Regions from separate parts of the Homo sapiens genome. Here all the other regions are reported to be linked to region 1. The links are microRNA targets in miRTarBase. Many come from high-throughput screens and were not tested one by one. Region 1 holds a microRNA gene; each other region holds the end of a gene's coding sequence.

Region 1 (3,110 bases):
CCCAGACTGGAGTGCAGTGGTGCGATCATCTCAGCTCACTGCAACCTCTGCCTCCCGGGTTCAACGATTCTCCTGCCTCAGTCTCCCGAGTAGCTGGGATTACAGGCGCCCACCATCACGTCCAGCTAATTTGTGTATTTTAGTAGAGACAGGGTTTCACCATGTTGGCCAGGCTGGTCTGGAACTCCTGACGTCAAGTGATCCGCCCACCTTGGCTTCCCAAGGTGCTGGGATTACAGGTGTGAGCCACTGCGCCCAGCCTCTCAGCAATTTTGTATTTGTGACTTTGTAATCTTTTCCTTAAAGAGTGCCCCCCCAAATGGTTTTAAGCTTCAGGCTCCTGGGAACCTAGATCTGTCCCCAGGGTGGGGCGGTGGAAAGCGTTCCAACCCCCTCCCACTTGCTTTTTGCATGCTGGCTCTGGGGCTTTGGGTGAAACTCCCCACTTTGCCATCTATACAATGGGGATGAATGAGGCGATGCGATGCTTAGAGGACCCTCTGTTCAAAACTCGCCCAACCCACAGAGACCTTCACAAGCCTGCACTTGGTCCATCACCAACAGCCCTGTGGGGAAAACCGAGCTCCTACCCCCATTTTCCAGCTGAGATAACTGAGGCGTGAAGCCCCGCTGCCGCTCGTCGCTGAGGCTGTGAGCAGGCTGGAGCCTCATCCCCCACTGCTCCCTGGGGTCTCCTCCCGGGATGCCAAGCCTGGGTAGCAGGAGGGGGTCTCCAGGGTGCGGGGGCGCTCTGGGGAGGCCGGGGGCGGAGGCGGTGTCCCGCACTGTCCCACCGCAGGGCCGACCTCGGCCCTTATCTGCTCCGGCAGCTTCCGCCCCCCAACTCCAGCCCCCGCCGCAGGCCCGGCCCCCGGCCCCGCCCCCCTAGGGCCCCTCCCCCGCGCCGCCCGCCCCCAGGGGAGCGCCCGAGCTGCCCGGCTGCGGCCCAGTCGAGCGGAGAGGGGGCCCAGCCCCCCCAGGTGGGCAGCCGGAAGTGATAAATAACCGAGACGGGGGGGGGGGGACACCATTGCAGTGAGGCCCGAGTTGTCCCGGGATACTCGCCCACAACCCAATAGGAGCTCCCCAAACTAAGTTGTCTTCGCCAAAAATGGGAGGGGGTCTGAGAAGGAAGAGGAAAGGGGTTCCTTAAGGCCCCAGGGACAAGAGGAACAGTGGAGTCAGTTTAAACAGGGCTCTGAGAGGCACACGACCTCCCCCCACACTAACAATGCCAAGTGGCCTCCCTGGGACAGGTGTGGGGGGGGGAGAGAGAAGCGGAGACACCTCAGAGAAAGTGAAAAGGAAGTCACAACTGGAGATGCCTGCGGAGTGCAGCGGGGCATAGCCTCAAAAATACATAAGGAACTCTTGCAAATCAAGGAAAAGAAAATCAAGCAATCCAATATAAAAAAATAGATAACACACACGCAGCGCAGGCATGTTAGGGCAGAGAAAACGAATTTGCTCAAATACCATCTAAGGGAGGCTCAGCCTCACTGCTGATGAGGGCGATGCAAATTCAGACCACAATGAGATGCTATTTACACCATCTGAAGGGCAGAAGGGAACTGTCCTTCAGCCAGAGCTGGCTGAAGGGCAGAAGGGAACTGTCCTTCAGCCAGAGCTGGCTGAAGGGCAGAAGGGAACTGTCCTTCAGCCAGAGCTGGCAAGGAGGGGAGCAGCAGGCCCTCCTGCATGTGGCTAGTCAGGATGCGGCTCCAAATAGCCCCCTAGGGAGAGCAATCTGGCCTTATCTCACGAAGTGGAGGTACAGAGGCTGTCACCCACACATCCCCCCAGGCAGCAAATCAAGATAAGTTCTCTGACAAGTGCGCCAAGAGACAGGGACAAAAATATTCACGTTGTCCCTAATAGCAAAAAAAATCCTGAAATAACCCCAGGGCCCACTGATAAGAGAATGGATAAATAAATTACAGTAGACACATTCACAGGGTGGAGATCATTCAGCAATGCAAGCAGGTGACCCACAGGTTCACCAATATCATGAAGGAATCTTTGCACCATGGTATTGAGTGGAAAAAGTCAGTCCCAGAAGATGGATACTTGCGGCTCTCTGTATCCCTGGGTTCCACATCCATGGATTCAACCAACCTCGGATGGAAAATATTTGGAGAAAAAAATGGATGGTTGTGTCTGTACTAAACATGTACAGACTTTTTTTCTTGTCATTGTTCCCCAAACAATACCATGTAACAGCGATTAACATAGCATTTACATTGTTTTCGGCAATCTAGAGATGATTTAAAGTATATGGGAGGATGTGGTAGGCTAAATATGCAAATATTTAATACCACACCATTTTATATCAGGGATTGAGCATCTGTGGATTTTGGTATCCTCAGGGGGTCTTGGAACCAACTCCCCCCCATCCCCGCCAGGACGCCAAAGGACAGCTGTCCTTACCCTTCTCATGAAGTTCAAAACCAAGCCAAGCCATATCTTTACAAATAACAATGTTCCTTCCCTGTTTCTAATACCTTTGTTATTAGGAGATGGTATGATTACCCACATAAAAGACTCTAGGCTGGGCATGGTAGCCCAAGCCTGTGTCCCTAGCACTTTGGGAGGCCAGGAGTTCAAGACCAGCCTGGGCAACATGGCAAAACCCCATCTCTACAAAAAATACCAAAAAAAAATTAGCCGAGCATGGTGGTTTGTGCCTGTGGTCCCAGCTACTTGGGAGGCTGAAGTGGGAGGATCATTTGAGCCCAGAAGGCCGAGGTTGTGGTCAGCGGAGATTGTGCTATACTCCAGCATGGGCAACGGAGTGAGACTCTGTCTCAAAAAAAAAAAAAAAAAAAAAAAAAAAAAAATATATATATATATATATATATATATATATCCCCACAAATATAAAATATCTAGAAGTAAACTTGGTAATAATTATGCAGAACCTATAGGAAAACAATTGTTAAATTCACTAAATAATGTAAAACCTTAAAATAGTTTTTTTTTTAAAAAAGCCAATTCAAATGGAATATTGTCTAGGTATACATACATATGTCAGAAAAAGCTTTATCAAAAAAATAAAAGCAAGAGTCAGGTGTGGTGGTGTGTGCCTGTAGTCCTAGCTTCTTGGGAGACTG
Region 2 (3,110 bases), not on the chromosome of region 1:
GCTGACCTCTGAATCCAAATGTACTTATTGTTCCACAGGTACTGGAAAAACAAACATTTGTCACCTAAACGGCTGAGCACAGGTATTCTTATGTACACCCTTGCATCAGCAATATGTGAAGAGATCCACTTGTATGGATTTTGGCCGTTTGGATTTGACCCCAACACAAGGGAAGATCTTCCATACCATTACTATGACAAAAAAGGAACCAAATTTACCACCAAGTGGCAGGAGTCCCACCAGCTGCCTGCTGAGTTTCAGCTGCTGTACCGAATGCATGGGGAAGGGCTCACCAAGCTGACTCTGTCACACTGTGCCTAAGAACTCCAAACGGAAAGCGCCAAATGGCTGTTTAAAAAGTGCCCCAAATCAAATTGAATAGCCTTCAGAATAGAACCCTAGAGAATGTCTTATAAGGATTGTCTGCCATTTAAAAGGAAAGATGTCTTTTCTCTTTTGCACTGCTCTTTTAAGAGTTTTAGCAGATTTAGCAGGACAGATGCATTGAAGCCACATGGTTTAGACTTGATTGATAAAGGGAATGTTGCATTTGGGACTATGCTGCTAACGAAATGGTTTGAAGTATTTTCATGTTTGGATTTTAATAATAAACTGCCTCTCATTTTTATGAGGACTAGAGCTATAGTTTCTGCAGCTCTGCTCAGATAGTCCTCATAATCAGAGGCCTCTGGCCAACTGGGGCAGGACCTGTTTTGCTGGTGGGATCAGACTCTGAAAAATGGAAACGTAAAAAACTGGTTTGCATATCTCATCTTCTATCTATCTCCCTATCTCCATCTCTATCACCATCTCACTCCTTCCCTCTGCAACTACTCCCTGCCCTACCACCGTGGAGTTTAATAATTTGCTAGGAATCCTATTGAATTCGCTTTGCTTGTATATGTTGCATTTGTACTTGATGTGTTTAAGGTTCTGGGTAACTTTGATGCTTCATGACAAAATAGGCAAATCACGATGGACTCCCTTGTGATTCCTTTTTTAAAGAAATGCCTCTGATGCAGTCCTCACCAGTCCATTCAGTCATTCTACAGCAAGATGGTCCCTCTGTGGTGAGTGGGATATAAGGCAGTGCATCTTTCATGATCACAAAGAAAGCCTATGTTGTGGATAGCATTGCGTCTCTTGATGTAGGCATTGTTATGGCAAATAATAGCACTGTGGCCACATCTGTAAGGCCATTCCAGCCTAAATTTAGTGTCTCCCATAATCCCAACCCATGCACTAGGCTGGGTGTTCTCTCAGAATATAGAGGCAATGAATCAGCTTAAGACCCTGGGACACACAAAGGAAAAGGAAGAAGAATATTTAGAAGTTGTTATGGAATCCTGTGTACCCTAAAGTGTGGTAACCATGTTACCCATTCCAGCTGGGTTAAAGTGGAGGAGGATCTTGGCCAGGCCAGGTGCCCAGGTGACTAGTGCTGAGGTGCGATCGTTTTCCGTATCATTGTGTGCACCACCACCAATCCAGAACCATTTGCTCTCTTTGAGAACATTGTAGCACTGGATATTCCCTCTTTCCACTGAAGTCAGATCTATACAACTACAAATTAAGCATTTCAAAAGAAAAAGCCATTGTGCAGTGGCAAGAGTTGGAATCCAAGATTATGTAGACCTGCGATGAAGGAAGTAGCTGGCCATTCTCATTTTCTTTATTTCAGCCATATGAGTAGAAATCAAATCATTCCCATCCCTGGCTTTTTACTGAGCAGCACTTTGTTCTTCCAATTCAGCCCAACGTCTGGCCAAGTTGATGTTAAATTTTAATAAGAGTTTCTTTCTTCTTTCCAAATGCCAGTCAAGCATATTTGTTATGCATTTGAGTGGGGTAGCTCATTCTTTTCCTGAAATCTCATCTAGATTGCTTGCAATGCGACAAATAACTGTTTAAAAAATGTGCTGTAGTTCAGTGATGAGCTCATTGCCCCTCTTTAGGAAGGTAAGATCATGCCTAAAATTAAACCGAATATGGTAAGGAAAGACACTATCGTTATGCTCACGTTCTGCCTGGTCCTAAACCTGCCTTATTATTATTTTCAGAAAGCAATCTAATTAGAGCAACTTGCATAGATCTAGATATTAACTAATGAAAGAAACACCAAGTTCAAATGTGTTACCAATTATGACACACATTACAATATAATTATAAGGGGAGACATTAAAAACATTTTGTAATTCAGTGGTATAATTTGATGGGTATCACAACCACACCGTGTTTGTTCCCTGTCCCTTTGAAGAGGACTGTACTACCATCCTCACACTGTGCTCTGTTGGGATCACTGAGAGATTGACAACTGACAGAAGTGTTTAGTTGGCTGTTCCTGAGCACTTAGTTCATTTGGTTATAGCTAAGTGATATTAATGCCAATATTACTTGGGCCAGATTCTGACTCTGGAGTTTTAATCCCAATGTGCCCATTCATTTTCACTAAATATAAATGCATAGACACTTTAAACCAAGAAGATTAAAAGAGGAAAAGACCAGAATCTCTAAAAAACAGTTTACTGTTCTGTAGTGGACAATTTAAATTTTATCTCATCATAATGCCAAGGATTTTTGTTTGTTTTTTAAGTTCAGGGAGATTTTTTAAATCTCCTTGCAGTCTTGGCTCCATCTTAACCTTAGAGTGGGAGGACTTTCCCATCCCCCACCACCGTGTTATCTATCACTTTAATGAAAACTCAAAATAGTGAGGAAATGGACTTTTCTTCAGAACTTGAGGGGTTTAGAGATCAGGCTCATCTCTGCTTATAAGGAGGACTTCCTGGAGATGATCCCAATAGATCACCCTTCACTTTTGAAGAATAGCAGCTTCTAGCTGACCATGCAAAATCTCTGTTTGTTTTTAAAGACTGTTTCAAAGATTAAATCTATACAACCACTTTTATGACCAAAAAAGTTGTTGTGTCCCAAGTGTCCTAATTAGAAAGGCAGCTGGCTCTCCTGCAGCTCCCAGGCTTGTGTAGTCAAGTGCAGTGAACTGGGCAGTAATCAGCTCAGGACCATTGGCTCTTTCCTCCTCTTTCAGCTACAGACACATGCCCTGGCTTTTGCATTGACCTTGCTTTGTTAGTTCTAGACTAATTTAT
Region 3 (3,093 bases), not on the chromosome of region 1:
TCTCCTGCCTCAGCCTCCTGAGCTGCTGGGATTACAGGCACCCGCCACCATGCCAGGTCAATTTTTTGTATTTTTAGTAGAGATGGGGTTTCACTATGTTGGCCAGGCTGGTCTTGAATTCCGGACCTCAGGTGATCCGCCCGCCTCAGCCTCCCGAAGTGCTGGGATTACAGGTGTGAGCCACCACGCCCGAATTCCTCTTGTAGGGATGTATGCATCAGATACACTTGCATAAATATGCACAGAAGTATGTTCAATGATGCTCTCGAAGCAGTATTTGTGGGGGTAAAAACAGGAAGCCACCCAACAATGTAGCCACAAGGAAGGAGGCAGATCCATGTGTACTAGACAGCCTTGGAGCCCTGTGGCATCCATTTGTCATTAAAGGGTAAGATGCAAGGTTCAGAGTAGTGTGCACAACATGATCCCTTTCAGGTTAAAATATAATTAACAGTCAACAAACTTATGGATACCATGAATAAAAGATATCAGTCCAGCTTCTTTAAAAAGTCAATACTGATGACCTCTGGAGACTAGGGATGGGTTCTTTGGGGTGGAAGGAGGATGATGGTTTACTTTTCACCATGTGCACTTGTGTGTGTTTTTAAAAATGTTTTGTAGAGATGAGCTCTCCCTGTATTGCCCAGGCTGGTCTCAAACTCCTGACTTCAAGTGAACCTCCTTGCCTTGACCTCCCAAAGCGCTGGGATTATTACAGGTGTGAGTGACTGCACCAGGCCTTCTGTATGCTTTTTTATCATAAGGATGTCTTCCAAGTGTCCGCCTGTACCCCCCCAAAAAATGGGCAGAGAACTCAAGAGGGCAGTTCTTCGTGGTCAAGTGGATACAATGTTCACCTGCTAACATTACAGTAAAGAACCTCCCTCCTCCCTGGGTACCCAGTGCACCAGCAAGGAGTTCAGCCTTCTGGGGATGATGCAGCACATACATGCAAGTGCAGGGCCCTCCCTGCCTCTTTTGCACACTGACAGCATATCACACATGGCGTTTCACACCATGCTTCTTTGTATTTAATGTCTATCTTGAGGAGCTTCTCAATGGCTATATCTACAGAGTGGGAAAAACTATTTGCAAACCATGTATCTGGTAAAGGGTTACTATCTGTCTCAACTTGGGCTGTTCTAACAAAATACCACAGACTGGGTAGCTTAAACAACAGGCATTTATTTCTCACAGCTCTGGAGGCTGGGAAGTCCAAGATGGTGGCTCCAGCAGATTCAGTGTCTGGTGAGGGGGGCTTCCTGGTTCACAGATGGTAGCTTCTAGCTGTGTCCTCACATGGCAGGAGGGGCAAAAGAGCTCCCTCGGGCATCTTTTATAAGAGCACTAATTCTATGCAAGAGGGCAGAGTCCTCAGGACCTAATCGCTTCCCTAAACTGTTGACCTTAGGGATGAGAGTTCAATATACGAATTTTTGGGGGACACAAACATTCAGGCCACAGCAGTATCCAAACTATATAAGGGACTCAAGTCAACAACAAAGAACAAATGACCCGGTGTATGCAAAAATGCTCAGTATCACCAACCGTTAGGGAAATGCAAATCAAAACCGCAATGAGAGAGATCACCTCATACCTGTTAGGATAGCTGTTATTAAAAAACACAAGATAAAGAATGTTGGCAACAATGTGGAGAAAAGGGAACCCTAGTGAACTGTTGGTGAGAATGGAAATTAGTACAGCCTTTATGGAAAACAGTATGGCGGTTCCTCAAAAAATTAAAAATAGAACCACCATTTGATGCAGCAATCCCACTTCTGGGTATACATATAAAAAAGAGATGAAATCATTATCTTCAAAAGATAGCTATACTCCCATGTTTACTGCAGCATTTCCACAACTGCCAAACTATGAAAACGACCTAAGTGTCTATTGGTGGACGGATTGGTAAGAAAATGTGGCATGTTATTTTTTACAAGGAAAGAAATCCTATCATTTGCAATAACATGGAGGAACCTGGAGAACATTATGTTAATAGAAATAAGCCAGACACAAAACAAATACCACATGATGCCACTTACATGAGGAATCAGCTGCTGAGCACTGGGTGTGGCCTGTCCCCTCCGCGTTGGCACACTGGCGGCTTCCACTCAGTGAGTTAACTTGGTGGGCTGCCCCTGACACAGGCTGGCCCTGCTACCCACATCTGCCTGCTGAAGAGCTCATATGACCCTCACTCTTGAGGGGACGTTAGCATCAAATCTCTCTCTCTGTTAACCCCCACACTGACTCCAGGCCCAAGCACGTCCCACAGCCATCAGGTCCCCACCCAAAGGGATCCCATGGGCTTTGCCCTGCAGACTTGGCCTGACCACTCAGAGGCAGGCGGGGCCATGACACAGACGGTTTATTCAGACCTCTCCACCCGCCACAGTTCCACATCCCAGTTCAGCAGGCCATTCTGTGACAGTTCCTACTGGTGGGTCTGTCTATGACAGCCCCATCCTGAGTTCCAAGTCCATGTCCTGACTGAGTGGTGAGTGTGCTCACTCGGTGCTCAGGAAGACTCTCTTGCGTGCGGTATTGGTGTAAGGGTGCCAGCGCCACTCCACGTCTGCTGTGGCCTCCTGCTCCAGCGTGCCCAGACGGATCATGTACACTGCAGGCAGGGATGGCATCAGCCCCGGCACAGCCAGCCTCCCCTCCCCACCCCAGACACGGGATTCAGCCTCAAACTCACGCTTCAGCTCAAAGCGGGGCCCGACCTCAGTGAGCTCCACGTTGCGGTGGTCTGTCTTCTTATACACATGGTGCCTGGGAGGGAACAGCTGTGGGTCAACGGCAAGCAGCACGAGGTACACAGGGTGGGGATGCTTTCCTGGGGCATGGCCCGTGGACCCACCGGAATGATATGTAGTCGTCCTGGTTTGCGAAGGTGATGACCCGGTGGCTGTCATCTTTGGGCACGGGAAATAGGTATCGGAGGATGTCAGAGACCTGGGGCACAAGGAAAGAGAGGGAAACAGAGTGGCAAATGCCTGGCCTGGCCCGCAGCCCCAGCCTGAAGGCCCCCAGACTCACCCGCTTGCCCAGGCGGGAGGAGAAGCCGTGTGTGATGAGGTGGGGCTTGGC
Region 4 (3,110 bases), not on the chromosome of region 1:
CTTCTCCAAAGAAACAGTTAAGCTCTTGTCTTCTCTGAACTAACACCTTAGTTATTTTATCTATCTGAAACAACACCTCACAGAATGGCAACACCTCTAAGGTTAACACCTTGGTTATCTGAGCTATCTGAGGTTTCACTTCAGTGATCTCAGTCCCTCTGAAGTAACACCTCAGTAATATTAGTTCCTCTGGAATTTCACTTCAGTGGTTTCAGTTGCTCTGAAGTAAAACACCAGTGATGTCAGCTCCTTTCTCAAGTTAACCAATCAGTTACCAGTTCCTCTCTGGAGTTAATAATTCACTGTTGTCAGTGTCTGTACATAGAAGGGGGAACAAGCTTTTGTCTACATCGTGGTGTTTTGCTGTGGACTTAAGGATCAATGCCTGGATGGGCACAGCAGCTCATGCCTGTAATCCTAACCTTTTGGGAAGGTGAGGTGGGAGGACTGCTTCAGCCCAGGAGTTTGAGGCAGCGGTGAGCCATGATGGCACCACTGCACTCCAACCTGGTGACAGAGCAAGACCGTCTTTAAAACAAACAAAAAGGATCAATATCCTGGTGACTATTTCCTCCCCACCAAACTGACAGATGTTGGGGGCGGGGGCCTGGGGTGAAGACAGCCCTTCTCTATCTCAGGCACTTAACATGTTGAGAATTTCAAGTGGCTTGAACCTCATACATTTGTTTCGTTTGCAGCTGGCTGCTACTAGAAATGGTTCTGATTCGGTTTCAAGAACTGTATCCTTGGCCGGGTGCGGTGGCACACGCCTGTAATCCCAGCACTTTGGGAGGCCGAGGCGGGCGGATCACCTGAGGTCAGGAGTTTGAGACCAGCCTGGCCAACATGGTGAAACCTCATCTCTACTAAAAATACGAAAATTAGTCGGGCGTGGTAGCAGGTGCCTGTAATTCCAGCTACTTGGGAGGCAGAGGCAGGAGAATTGCTTGAACCTGGGAGGTGGAGATTGCAGTGAGCTGAGATTGTGCCATTGCACTTCAGCCTGGGGAACAAGAGCAAGACTTTGTCTCAAAAAAAAAAAAAAAAGTATGCTTAAAACAGAACAAATAATTCTGAATACAAATTTTTAATTATGAATAAACTAGATTCATCTTCATCATAGTAATATGGCAATGGATACTGGACTCTTGAACCAGGAGTAAAAAAATGAAAAAAAAAACCCCTTCAAATATAGGAATAGAAATACTAGAGATAGTAAAAAAGAGCTATCTGAATTTGAGAAATGTATGTTTTAAATATATCTACCAAAGAACAGTATTTTCAGCATTGTTTTGGGGGAAATACCATAAGATGTAAAGAGGTACCCACTTGGTGTAACAGCTATGAGGTCTGCTGAGTGTGAAGCTCCCCTCCTTTGCCTGCATGGGAATTGAGACATCTCACGGTTTCTGGGGCACAGGATCTGCAGGTCATAAGGGCAAGTTTTGAGGAAAATACCCATTTTTGAGTTGAATTTTTACTAAAAAGTTAGCATAACCTTTCTGATCTTGAATAAAGTTAAAAGCTCCAGATAAAGGGTTTTCTAGGCCAGGCATGGTGCCTCACGCCTGTAATCCCAACACTTTCGGAAGCAAAGGTGGGAGGATCACTTGAGGCCAGGAGTTCGAGACCAGCCTGGCCAACACGGTGAAACTCCGTCTCTACTAAAAATACAAAAATTAGCCAGGTGTGGTGGCGCATATCTATAATCCTAGTTACTTGGGAGACTGAGGCACAAGAAAAGCTTGAACCTGGGGTGGGGGCGGAGACTGCAGTGAGCCAAGATCATGCCACTGCACTGCAGCTTGGGCAACAGAGCAAGACTATCTCCACACACACATACAAAAAGTTTTTTAAATTTATGTAATTTCTCACTAATATATAAGCTTTTTCCTTGTTTCATACAAAACAGGACTCCACACACTTAGGATGGAAATCCACACACTTAGGATTTCCAACCATTTTACATGATGCTTGATGAAAATATCTTTTTATATCACTTTATCCATACAATACTTTAGTCTTTTAAGAGAATACTGAAAATAGTCCGACTTTCAAATTTTAAGTGCAATAATTAGTATGGTTAATTGATATTTAGGAAGGGCATGTAATGTTCTTAGAAAAAGAACTTTATTTGGAATGTAAGATTTTATTGGGATAATGGTTCTTATGCCTTAAATTCCCTTAGTTCAAATAAACTAATGTTAAAGAATTATGGCTGTTTTTTACCAAAATTCTCTACAATTGTATGATTACTCTCCAACATAACTTCAAGATGTTGAGGAAAATAAAACAGGTAGTCTCTGAAGTTTTTCCACAGGAACAGCACGCTAAGTGCTTCTTTCTGGAGTTATTTTGTGACACTGAATCGCCAAAGAAAAGCTTCCTATAGAGTTAACAGAGACTTCTCTTGGGCTGAAGGCTGCTTGTGGTTCCACATGCAGTTTCTGTGAGAATGGATTCTTGTGTCAGCCATGGGTCACAACTTTCTGTGCACTTTCTGGTGCTGGATTAGGTGGCCATGCTGGTTGAAGGCACGCCCACACTCCCCGCACTCATAGGGCTTCTCGCCTGTGTGGATCCGCTGGTGCTGGATGAGCACTGAGTACTGGCTGAAGGCCTTCCCGCAGCTATTGCACTCATATGGCTTCTCGCCCGTGTGGGTCCTCAGGTGCACAATCAGAGTTGCTTTCAGGCTGAAGGCTTTGCCACATTCTGTGCACTGGAAGGGCTTTTCACCTGTGTGGATTCTCTCATGCTGGATCAGAGACCGGCGTGCACTGAAGGCGTGCCCACATTCACCACACACATAGGGCTTCTCCCCAGTGTGGACTCTCTGGTGCTGGATCAGGTGTGAGTGCTGAACGAAGGCCTTCCCACATTCGTAGCATGCATAGGGCTTTTCCTCGGTGTGGATCCGCTCGTGATTCATCAGTGTGGAGCGGTGGCTGAAGGTCTTCCCACACTCACTGCACTCATAGGGCTTCTCCCCGGTGTGCACGTTGTGGTGCTGAATGAGGACTGAGCGGTCGCTGAAGGCCTTCCCACACTCGCTGCACGTGTAGGGCTTCTCCCCGGTGTGGATCCTCTGGTGCTGCAGCAGTGTCCTC

What was found. Region 1 holds the annotated microRNA hsa-miR-4487 (AGAGCUGGCUGAAGGGCAG, at 1,585-1,603, shown strand). A microRNA usually pairs through its seed, bases 2 to 8, with sites in the 3' UTR of a target mRNA and lowers its output. Matches are read on the target gene's strand: a 7mer-m8 pairs with bases 2 to 8, a 7mer-A1 pairs with bases 2 to 7 and ends in A, and an 8mer does both.
Region 2: miRTarBase lists ST8SIA3 as a target of hsa-miR-4487. Seed matches in the 3' UTR shown: 7mer-A1 at 3,014-3,020.
Region 3: miRTarBase lists IMP4 as a target of hsa-miR-4487. The part of its 3' UTR that is shown has no 7-base or 8-base seed match.
Region 4: the mRNA of ZNF250 is a reported target of hsa-miR-4487. Seed matches in the 3' UTR shown: 7mer-A1 at 974-980.

Annotation. Positions count from the first base shown.
Region 1 is chr11:47,399,400-47,402,509 of GRCh38, forward strand. MIR4487 (microRNA 4487) reads left to right here and starts at 1,571; the gene lies at 1,571-1,643. All of the region lies in intron 2 of SLC39A13-AS1 (SLC39A13 antisense RNA 1), which reads right to left. RefSeq lists a silencer at 630-989 and an enhancer at 1,039-2,039.
Region 2 is chr18:57,359,957-57,363,066 of GRCh38, forward strand. ST8SIA3 (ST8 alpha-N-acetyl-neuraminide alpha-2,8-sialyltransferase 3) reads left to right here. Exons shown (of 4, transcript NM_015879.3): 4 at 39-3,110. The coding sequence ends at 321. Among named protein-coding and RNA genes, the nearest start is that of ST8SIA3, 9.0 kb to the left of the region's middle.
Region 3 is chr2:130,345,883-130,348,975 of GRCh38, reverse strand. IMP4 (IMP U3 small nucleolar ribonucleoprotein 4) reads right to left here. Exons shown (of 9, transcript NM_033416.3): 6 at 3,043-3,093; 7 at 2,864-2,958; 8 at 2,702-2,775; 9 at 1,009-2,620. The coding sequence ends at 2,508. Among named protein-coding and RNA genes, the nearest start is that of IMP4, 4.5 kb to the right of the region's middle.
Region 4 is chr8:144,879,036-144,882,145 of GRCh38, forward strand. ZNF250 (zinc finger protein 250) reads right to left here. Exons shown (of 6, transcript NM_001109689.4): 6 at 1-3,110. The coding sequence ends at 2,480. Among named protein-coding and RNA genes, the nearest start is that of ZNF250, 21 kb to the right of the region's middle. RefSeq lists enhancers at 2-151, 352-541.